Regions from separate parts of the Homo sapiens genome. Here region 2 is linked to region 1. The links come from fine-mapping of genetic effects on gene expression. A gene starts in region 1. The other region holds a variant in brackets. All regions are shown on one strand. Distances are from middle to middle.

The links. PIP is the estimated chance that this variant, and not a neighbour inherited with it, causes the effect.
Region 2: its variant is the best candidate, but not a certain one, in a credible set for the expression of PSD in whole blood (INTERVAL, PIP 0.72).

The regions. Positions count from the first base shown.
Region 1 is chr10:102,416,327-102,420,713 of GRCh38, reverse strand. It overlaps PSD (pleckstrin and Sec7 domain containing), which reads left to right and starts at 1,929. Exons shown (of 17, transcript NM_002779.5): 1 at 1,929-2,013; 2 at 3,593-4,329. The coding sequence starts at 3,676.
Region 2 is chr10:102,316,523-102,320,909 of GRCh38, reverse strand. The region is part of intron 3 of GBF1 (golgi brefeldin A resistant guanine nucleotide exchange factor 1); the gene reads right to left. Among named protein-coding and RNA genes, the nearest start is that of GBF1, 73 kb to the right of the region's middle. The variant A/G (reference allele first, on the strand shown) is at 1,951.

The DNA.
Region 1 (4,387 bases):
CTATCCAGGCTCTTACTGTCTGCCACGTAGCAGGTGTTCAATAAGTAATTGTTGAAATAATGAATGAATTGGCGAGGCTATAATGTTTCCCTCATCAAGTAAACCTGCTCAAACCTCCCATTCCTGATTAATTATGAAGAGCTATCCAGCCTCTTCCACTTCGTAACAGTTTGGGCCGCGTTTCCGCCGGGGGAGAGAGATGTAGGGGGCGCGAAGAAAGACTATATTTCCAACTGGGTCCCTTTCATTTCCTCCAAAGGTCCAGAGTCCTAAGAAGAATGAGAGCTCAGCTCAGCCCGCCAGTGGTAGTGCTTCTCGGCTGGCCTTGGGTTTAGTTGTAGGGTCTGGGGCTGGGTCCGCCCTGGGACAATGACGCCCCAGACCTCTGGACTCAGCTTCAGGGCTGCCTCTCACCGCGTCCCCAGGTCCCAGTCCCAGGATCCGCTTCGGGGAACCCCAGGAGTAGTGCCTTCCCCCATCATCCACGGGATGGGTGTGGGGGGATGTGAAGGACGCGAGAGCCACTGCACCGCTGACGGTCTGGCGCTCCGGTGCAACCGCTTCAGCTGGCTCATCACAACGAAAACCACTTCTCATCTGTTATCTCGTCAAGGCTTCGGGCACCTCTGAAAGGTGGGCAGGTCTATGCTATCAGTCCATTTTAAAGATGGGGAAACCGAGGCCCTGGAGAGGAAGCCCCTTGTCCAGAATCAAGCCAGACGGGAATAGAGAACCCAGACATCTGGTTTTCCCAGAATTCCTTCCACGTTTCCCCACCCCGCAAGGCAGCGAGAAGGGAGAAGCTAGCAGCGGGGAGAGACAAGAAAGGGGTCAAGTTAGGTGAGGGCTTGCTATCTCTTCTTCCTCAGCCTGCTTAGGGAGGGGGTAGCTGGGAGGACAGACCCCTGCAAAGATAGAGCCACGTGAGCGCGCACCACCTCCGGCCGCGCGCCTCGTCCCCCTCCCCTCTTTGTTCGCGCCTCTGCGCCTGCGCAGTGCGACAAATCTGGCGCTGTCCCCTTCAGCACCACGCGGAGTCCGCGCCGCCCCTCCCCGCGGTGAGCCCCGCGCGCCCCCGCCTCGCACGTCCTCGCGCCCCCTGACTGCCCGAACAGACCCCTTCTTCCTTCCGAGGTCACCATCTGCCCGCCCTGGCCCTCCCAAAGAGAGTAGTTGCCATAGTAACTCCAGCGGCTCTTTCTTAAAATAGCAGGGCCCCCTTCTACCCTGGCCAAGGGCACAAGGGTTGCCGGTCCCCCACGTCTTCCGGTCCCTAGTTCATCCCGTCTAACCTCTTACCCCTGGGCAGGCGTGACGACACCTAACTCAGGCAGCAAGGAAGTTCTTCCTGAAGTCTGATTTAACATCCCCCTGCTGCATCCTGGGAGGGTGGTCAGGGTTGGATCTCCTGGGTCCGAGACTCAAAACCCCTGGCGGGTTCAAGACGGTGTTCCCTAGATCTCCTTTCCATAGTTGATGGTCTCCTGGATTTAGGGGGCGGGTCCAGTCTACACCCATACCGTGTGCTTGGCGCGGCCGCGTGCTCGTGGGGGCGGGAGCGCGTGTGGCATGTAACAGGTCATGTGGCAGCCTCCTAGGGACACGCGTGGGGTCTGGAGCGGGACACGCGTGTGCAGCCGGGCCTTACGTGTGGCTCAAGGGGCGGTGGGCGAGAGAGACGTGGACACAAGTGGGGTGGGGCACGTGAGGGTCTGGGGAATAGAACCAGGGGTTCCATGCGCCCTCCTCCTTGTCTGGGGCGGGTCTTAGGTTGGCGGGAGAGCCCAGCGGGGACCTAGCGACAAGGGGGGCTGGCAGCCTCCGGGGCTCTGGGCCCTGGGAGAGGGCGGGGGGTGGGGGGGATTAGCGTTGCCTGAGCGGCGCGTAGGGGGTAGGGGGAGGGACTGAGAGGCGGGCGGGCCTGGAGCAAACGGGAGCCGCGCTGCCTTCACAGCTCAGCTGGGCCCAGCCTCTCCTCTGTCTCTCCTCGGTCTCAGCTCTGGGCGAGCAGCGGTGAGTACTGAGGTGGCATTGAGTTGGGGCTGCACCGGGTATGCGCTGGGACCCCGTTGAGCTTCCGGAACCTGCCTGGCAGGGTTGCTACTCCTGACCTCTGCCCCTCCCCTGCATTGCCACCAGAGGCCCCTTTACCTGGTTATGGTCTCTCCTGGGCGGGATCTGTCTTACCCCTGGGGAGAGAGGGAGAGGAGAGGAATATGGGTGCAGATTCCCCTCAAGAGACCCCAGTAGGTGGGGGGGAGGGGACGGTGTGTGTCCCTGCTTGAGTGTGTACATCTGTATGTGTACATCTGTATGTGTATGTGACTGTGAGCAGTAGGTCTCTGTGAGTGTCTGATACACCTGGACCTCTGTGTGCACTGGAGAATGACAGCTTGTGTATATATTTGGGTACCTCTTTGTGTGTTCCTGTTTGATGATGGTGTGTGTGTAAAACAAGCATGTGCCTTTTCATTACACACATACTTGTTATGACTGTGAGAGTGCATGAGGGTGTGTCTTTGAGCAGTGTGTGTGTGTGTGTGTCTGTGTGTGTGCCAGAGGGTGTTGCCTATGAATGTGTTTAACTGTGTACTGACATATTTGTCCTTATGTATGTGTGTGCGTGTGTGTGTGTGTGTGTGTGTGTGTGTGTTTGTGTGTGTGTAGGTGCCTGTCTGTACCTGTATGAAGAAAAGAATGTCCCTGGCCGGGTGCGGTGGCTCACGCCTGTAATCCCAACACTTTGGGAGGCCAAAGTGGGTGGATCCCCTGAGGTCAGGAGTTTGAAACTAGCCTGGACAACATGGTGAAACTCCATCTCTACTAAAAATACAAAAATTAGCCAGGCATAGTGCTGAGCGCCTGTAATCCAAGCTATTCAGGAGTCTGAGGCAGGAGAATCACTTGAACTTGGGAGGCGGAGGTTGCAGTGAGCTGAGATAGCGCCATTCCACTCCAGCCTGGGCAGCAGGGGCGAAACTCCATCTCAAAAAAAAAAAAAAAAAAGAAGAATGTCCCTTTCCCACTCAGTATGTATATATTGGGGGTAGGAGCCTCTGCTCAGGCTTTTCTCCCCACTTCCATGCTGTGCCTCTCAGCCCTTCAGCATCCCTATATAACACCTGTTCCTCTTCCCTCTCCTTCCAGGAGGCCTGAGTTTCCCTTCCCTGAGTGAGGGGCCTCCATAAGAGAGACTATAGGGGTCACAGGGCTGTATGATGGTGACAGCTGGCTGACACCCCTTTTCCAGAGGGTGGGGTACCAACTTCCCCTATTCTAGAAGTAGCTCCAAAGTGCCATAAGAACTCCGGGCTCACTCAACTTTGAAGTTGCTTCCTCTCTCCTCCCAGGGTGATGCTCAGGGCCTCAGGCAGAAGGAAAGGAGCCAGGGGCCCACTGGGTGTATAAGTCTTTTCTCGTCAGGCCTCTATGGAAGTAGTCCCCAGGCGTGGGATCAATGATCCCATATTACCAGGGTGTGCTAGGTCCCTGATACTCAGAGGCCCTAGCCAACTTTCCCTTCCCTATCTCTGCTGTCCTATCCATCTAACTCCTTGGCAGTTCACCCCATGCTCCCCTTCCTCTCTTACAGGCCTGTCTGAAGAGCATGCAGCCCCCTTACTCCCCGCCTGGCCTCGCCATCCCTGCCCCCCCAGCCTGACCCCCGGCCCCAGCATGGCCCAGGGTGCCATGCGCTTCTGCTCGGAAGGCGACTGTGCCATCTCCCCACCACGATGCCCACGCCGCTGGCTCCCCGAAGGCCCGGTGCCCCAGAGCCCCCCAGCCAGCATGTATGGCAGCACAGGCTCCTTGCTACGGCGAGTGGCAGGTCCAGGTCCTCGAGGCCGGGAACTGGGACGTGTGACAGCACCCTGTACACCTCTGCGTGGCCCCCCCTCACCCCGTGTTGCTCCCTCACCCTGGGCACCCTCTTCACCCACTGGGCAGCCCCCACCCGGGGCCCAGAGCTCTGTGGTCATCTTCCGCTTTGTGGAGAAGGCCAGTGTGAGGCCACTGAATGGGCTACCTGCTCCAGGGGGCTTGAGTCGGAGCTGGGATCTGGGTGGGGTTTCTCCTCCCAGGCCCACCCCAGCCCTTGGGCCTGGCTCCAACCGGAAGTTACGGCTGGAAGCATCCACATCAGACCCACTCCCCGCCAGAGGAGGCTCGGCCCTACCTGGCAGCCGGAACCTTGTACATGGGCCGCCAGCCCCACCCCAGGTTGGAGCAGATGGCCTTTACTCCTCTCTCCCCAATGGGCTGGGGGGCCCCCCTGAGCGCCTGGCCACACTCTTCGGAGGACCTGCTGACACTGGATTCCTGAACCAGGTATGCAACTTCCCCTGGGCTCCCTGGGCCCCCAGTGAAGGGGCAAGGCTCAGCCTCC
Region 2 (4,387 bases), 100 kb after region 1:
GCTTGAGAATCACTTGAATCTAGGAGGTGGAGGTTGTAGTGAGCCGAGACTCCGAGACTGCACCACTGCACTCCAGTCTGGGCGACAGAGTCAGACTCCATTTAAAAAAAAAAAGAATTAAAAATAAAAACTAAAATATATAATAAGTAGAATAAAATGATCTTGAGGTGAAAAGAAAACTGTCTGAGATTCATTAACAGATTGCTTCTCAGCCTTTCAGCTAAAATCAAGCATAGATTCATTAACAGATTCTTAGCAGAAGAAAAGGAAATATAAGCAGAGCAGAAAAGGCTGAAGAGCAAGTTGCTTTAGAAGGAAGTACCAATAAGAAACAAGCTCTGGAAGGAGGCACCAGGTAGAAGGTGAGACATGGAACAGAAAACAGGGGGACTAATTGAGAAAACAGAAAAAATGGAGAAGGGGGAAAAGGGGAAATTATTGAGGAACTAATATAAGATCATTTCCCAAAATCAAATGATATAATTTTGCAGATCAAAAAGACCCTTACTAAGAACCTAGCAGAATAACTAAAAGAGACCCACACCAAGTGTTTCAGAATAATGAGGATAAAGAAATTGTAAGAACTCCAGTTTAAATATAAAGGACTGAGATTCAATATGGCATCAGACTACTCAAGATCAACACTGGAAATGAGAAGAAAAAGAAGCAGAGCCATCAAGTTTCGAAGGAAAACTATTTCCAAACTAGAATTCTATATCCGGTAAAACCTTCAATTAGTGTCAGTATAGAATAAAAAGATAGCTTCAGATAAGCAATGTCTAAAAAAACCATACATCCCCAGGTGTCCTTTCCTAGAAGCTACTGGATGACGTAAAAAATAAAAAATAAAAAACCAATGTGAGACAGTAAATCAAGAAAGAAATGGGCCAGGTGCAGTGGTTCACGCCTGTAATCCCAGCACTTTGGAAGGCAGAGGCACATCACCTTAGGTCAGGAGTTTGAGATCAACCTGGCCAATATGGTGAAACCCCATCTCTACTAAAAATATAAAAATTAGTTGGGCGTGGTGGCAGGCACCTGTAATCCCAGCTACTCAGGAGGCAGAGGCAGGAAAATTGCTTGAACTTGGGAGGCGGAGGTTGCAGTGAGCCGAGATCACATCACTGCACTCCAGCCTGGGCGACATGAGTGAAACTCTGTCTCAAAAAAAAAAAAAAAAAGAAAGAAAAAGAAAAAGAAAAAAGAAAGAAATGGACATAGCATAAACAAGAAAAAGGAGATCTAGAGAAAACTGAAGGGAAGTTCCAGAAGGACAGCTGTGCCTGAGGTCTAGACAGTAACCAATACAGAATAGAAGAAGAGGATGGGAGGCTCTGAGAAGGAGTTTCTAGGAAGAGATAAAAATGGAAGAGAAGAGCTGTGTGTTTGACCACGTGGAAAAATAATATTCAGTTTTTAAAACTTGTAGAATTTGAGAAGAAACAGTAATAGTAACAGAAAACAGCATATTTTCAAAAGGAAGGGAAAACTTGAATAATGAATTCAAATGAATAATACTAAAGATCTTTTTTTTTAGAGACAGGAGTCCTGCTATGTTACCCAGGCTAGCCTTTTGTTGTTGTTGTTGTTGAGACGGAGTCTCACTCTGTCACCCAGGCTGGAGTGCAGTGGCGCGATCTCGGCTCACTGCAAGCTCCGCCTCCCGGGTTCATGCCATTCTCCTGCCTTAGCCTCTCGAGTAGCTGGGACTACAGGCACCTGCCACCACGCCCGGCTAATTTTGTTTTGTATTTTTAGTAGAGACGGGGTTTCACCATGTTAGCCAGGATAGTCACGATCTCCTGACCTCGTGATCCATCTGCCTTAGCCTCCCAAAGTGCTGGGATTACAGGCATGAGCCACTGCGCCCAGCCTACCCAGGCTAGTCTTGAACTTCTGGCCTCAACAGATCCTCCTGTCTTGGCTTCCCAAAATGCTGGGATTACAGGC[A/G]TGAGCCACTGTGCCCAGCTATAAGGTCTTAATAAGGTAAAGAATGAGTACTGGTTTAACCAAATGGGGTGATAATTATATTGGGAGGATGGAGGAAAGGAGAATGGGGTGGTGAGTATTGCAAATGTGCTATATCTACATGTAGGAGTAGGAAGTCAATAGATAATGCTTAAAATGTAAAAATCCTATTTAAAAATGTAGTATCAACATATTATTTAGAAATAGAAAAGAAAACAACTGAATAAACAGCTAAAAGAGTTTAGGGAGGGGACCTTGAAGGGGGGGAAGTTGGACTTTGCAGCACAATTTGACTTTTTAAAACTATGTACATGTATTACCTAAAGAGAAATAAAAATAATAGAAGGAATTTATTATAAGGATCCTTAAGAGTGATAAGCAAAAAATCGTGTACCAAGATATTTATACCACATTGCTTATAATATTGAAAAACTGGGAATAATCTAAATAACCACTGGGCACGGTGCTCATGCCTGTAATCCCAGCACTTTGGGAGGCCAAGGTAGGTGGATCGCTTGAGCCCAGGAGTTCAAGACCAGCCTTGGCAACATGGCGAAACCCCATCTCTACAAAAAAAAATTACAAAAATTAGCCGGGTGTGATGATGCGCACCTGTAGTCCCAGCTACTTGGGGGGCTAAGGCAGGAGAATCACTTGAGCCCAGGAGGTTGAGGGTGCAGTGAGCCACACCACTGCCTTCTAGCCTAGGCAACAAAGTGAGACACTATCTTAAAATAAATAAATAGACTGGGCATGGTGGCTCACACCTGTAATCCCAGCACTTTGGGAGGCCGAGGCCGGGCGGATCACAAGGTCAGGAGATCGAGACCACGGTGAAACCTTGTCTCTACTAAAAATACAAAAAATTAGCCAGGCGTGGTGGCAGGCGCCTGTAGTCCCAGCTATTTGGGAGGCTGAGGCAGGAGAATGGCGTGAACCCGGGAGGCAGAGCTTGTAGTGAGCTGAGATCACACCACTGCACTCCAGCCTGGGTGACAGGGCGAGACTCCGTCTCAAAATAAATAAATAAATAAATAAAAATAAATAAATAAATAACCAACAACAGGAAGCTCTTAAATAAATTCTGTAACATTCATACAATGAATAATATCATTAGATCTTATTTTCTAATGTGTAATGATGTGGGACAATGCCCATAACATGATAAAAGAAGAGGCAAAAATGTATAGAATATGATTCCCATTTTGCTAAGGGTGATATTGTGTTTGCGTGCGCTAAAAAAAGATAAAATAATAGTTATCTTTAGGTGATTGGACTATGGAGGTTCTTGTTTCCATCTCTTTAAACTTTTTTATTTTTTTAAAGATGTAGTCTTGCTCTTGTCGCCCAGGCTGGAGTGCAATGACGTGATTTTGGCCACAGCAACCTCCGCCTCCTGGGTTCAAGCGATTCTCCTGCCTCAGCCTTCTCAAGTAGCTAGGATTACAGGCATGTGCCACCATGCCTGGCTAATTTTGTATTTTTAGTAAAGATGGGGTTTCTCCACGTTGGCCAGGTTGGTCTCGAACTCCTGACCTCAGGTGATCCACCCACCTTGGCCTCCCAAACTGCTGGGATTACAGGCATGAGCCACCATGCCCAGCATCTTTAAACTTTTTTGTATCTTCCTAAATTTATATAATAGTCTATGTAGACATGGGCTATTATTATTTTTTAGATACAGGGTCTCACTATGTTGCCCAGGCTAGACTTGGACTTCTGGGCTAAGCGATTCTCCCATCTCAGCCTCTGGAGTAGCTGGGACTACCAACACATGCCACTGTGCCTGGCTTATATTACTACTAAATGTTATTTTTTAAAAGCCAGTTAGAAAAAAAAAGGGGGCACTGGGCAGCCTAAATCACAGAGTCTGAAGACTATTATTACTAAGTTTTAGTAAAACTCACTTCCCAAAACTTAATATGAGCACTGCTTTGTTGTTCATGAATAGCTAAAAATGATGTTTAGCATAATCTCCCATTATTAGGGAATTTAAAATAATTATTTAAAATGGCATTTATAGGATTACTGAAACAATACTGGCCTTCCTGCATTCAAATCCCTCATCCTCTCCTTCAGTGAATATTATTTTGTACCTTCTGTGGGCCTGGCACTGCTAGCCATTGGATATACAAAGAAGAATAATCCAAAGTCTTGCTTACAGACTATAGACTACACTAGCTTTTATGACCACAGCCAAACTTCAAATTTTCTGGGTCTTATTTTATCAGTTGGTCTATCTGTCTATCTATCTAAAAGGATAGGACTGGAAATGGCCATATGGCTCAGAAATTCAATGACTATGATTTCTGATTGTCAGGCATGCCAAGTATTCTACTCGTTAACTGTGGCACAGTTTTATATCTGTGACTCACTGAAGACCTAAATGGTGGTTCTGTTCCTAATGCTTGTTAAAAAG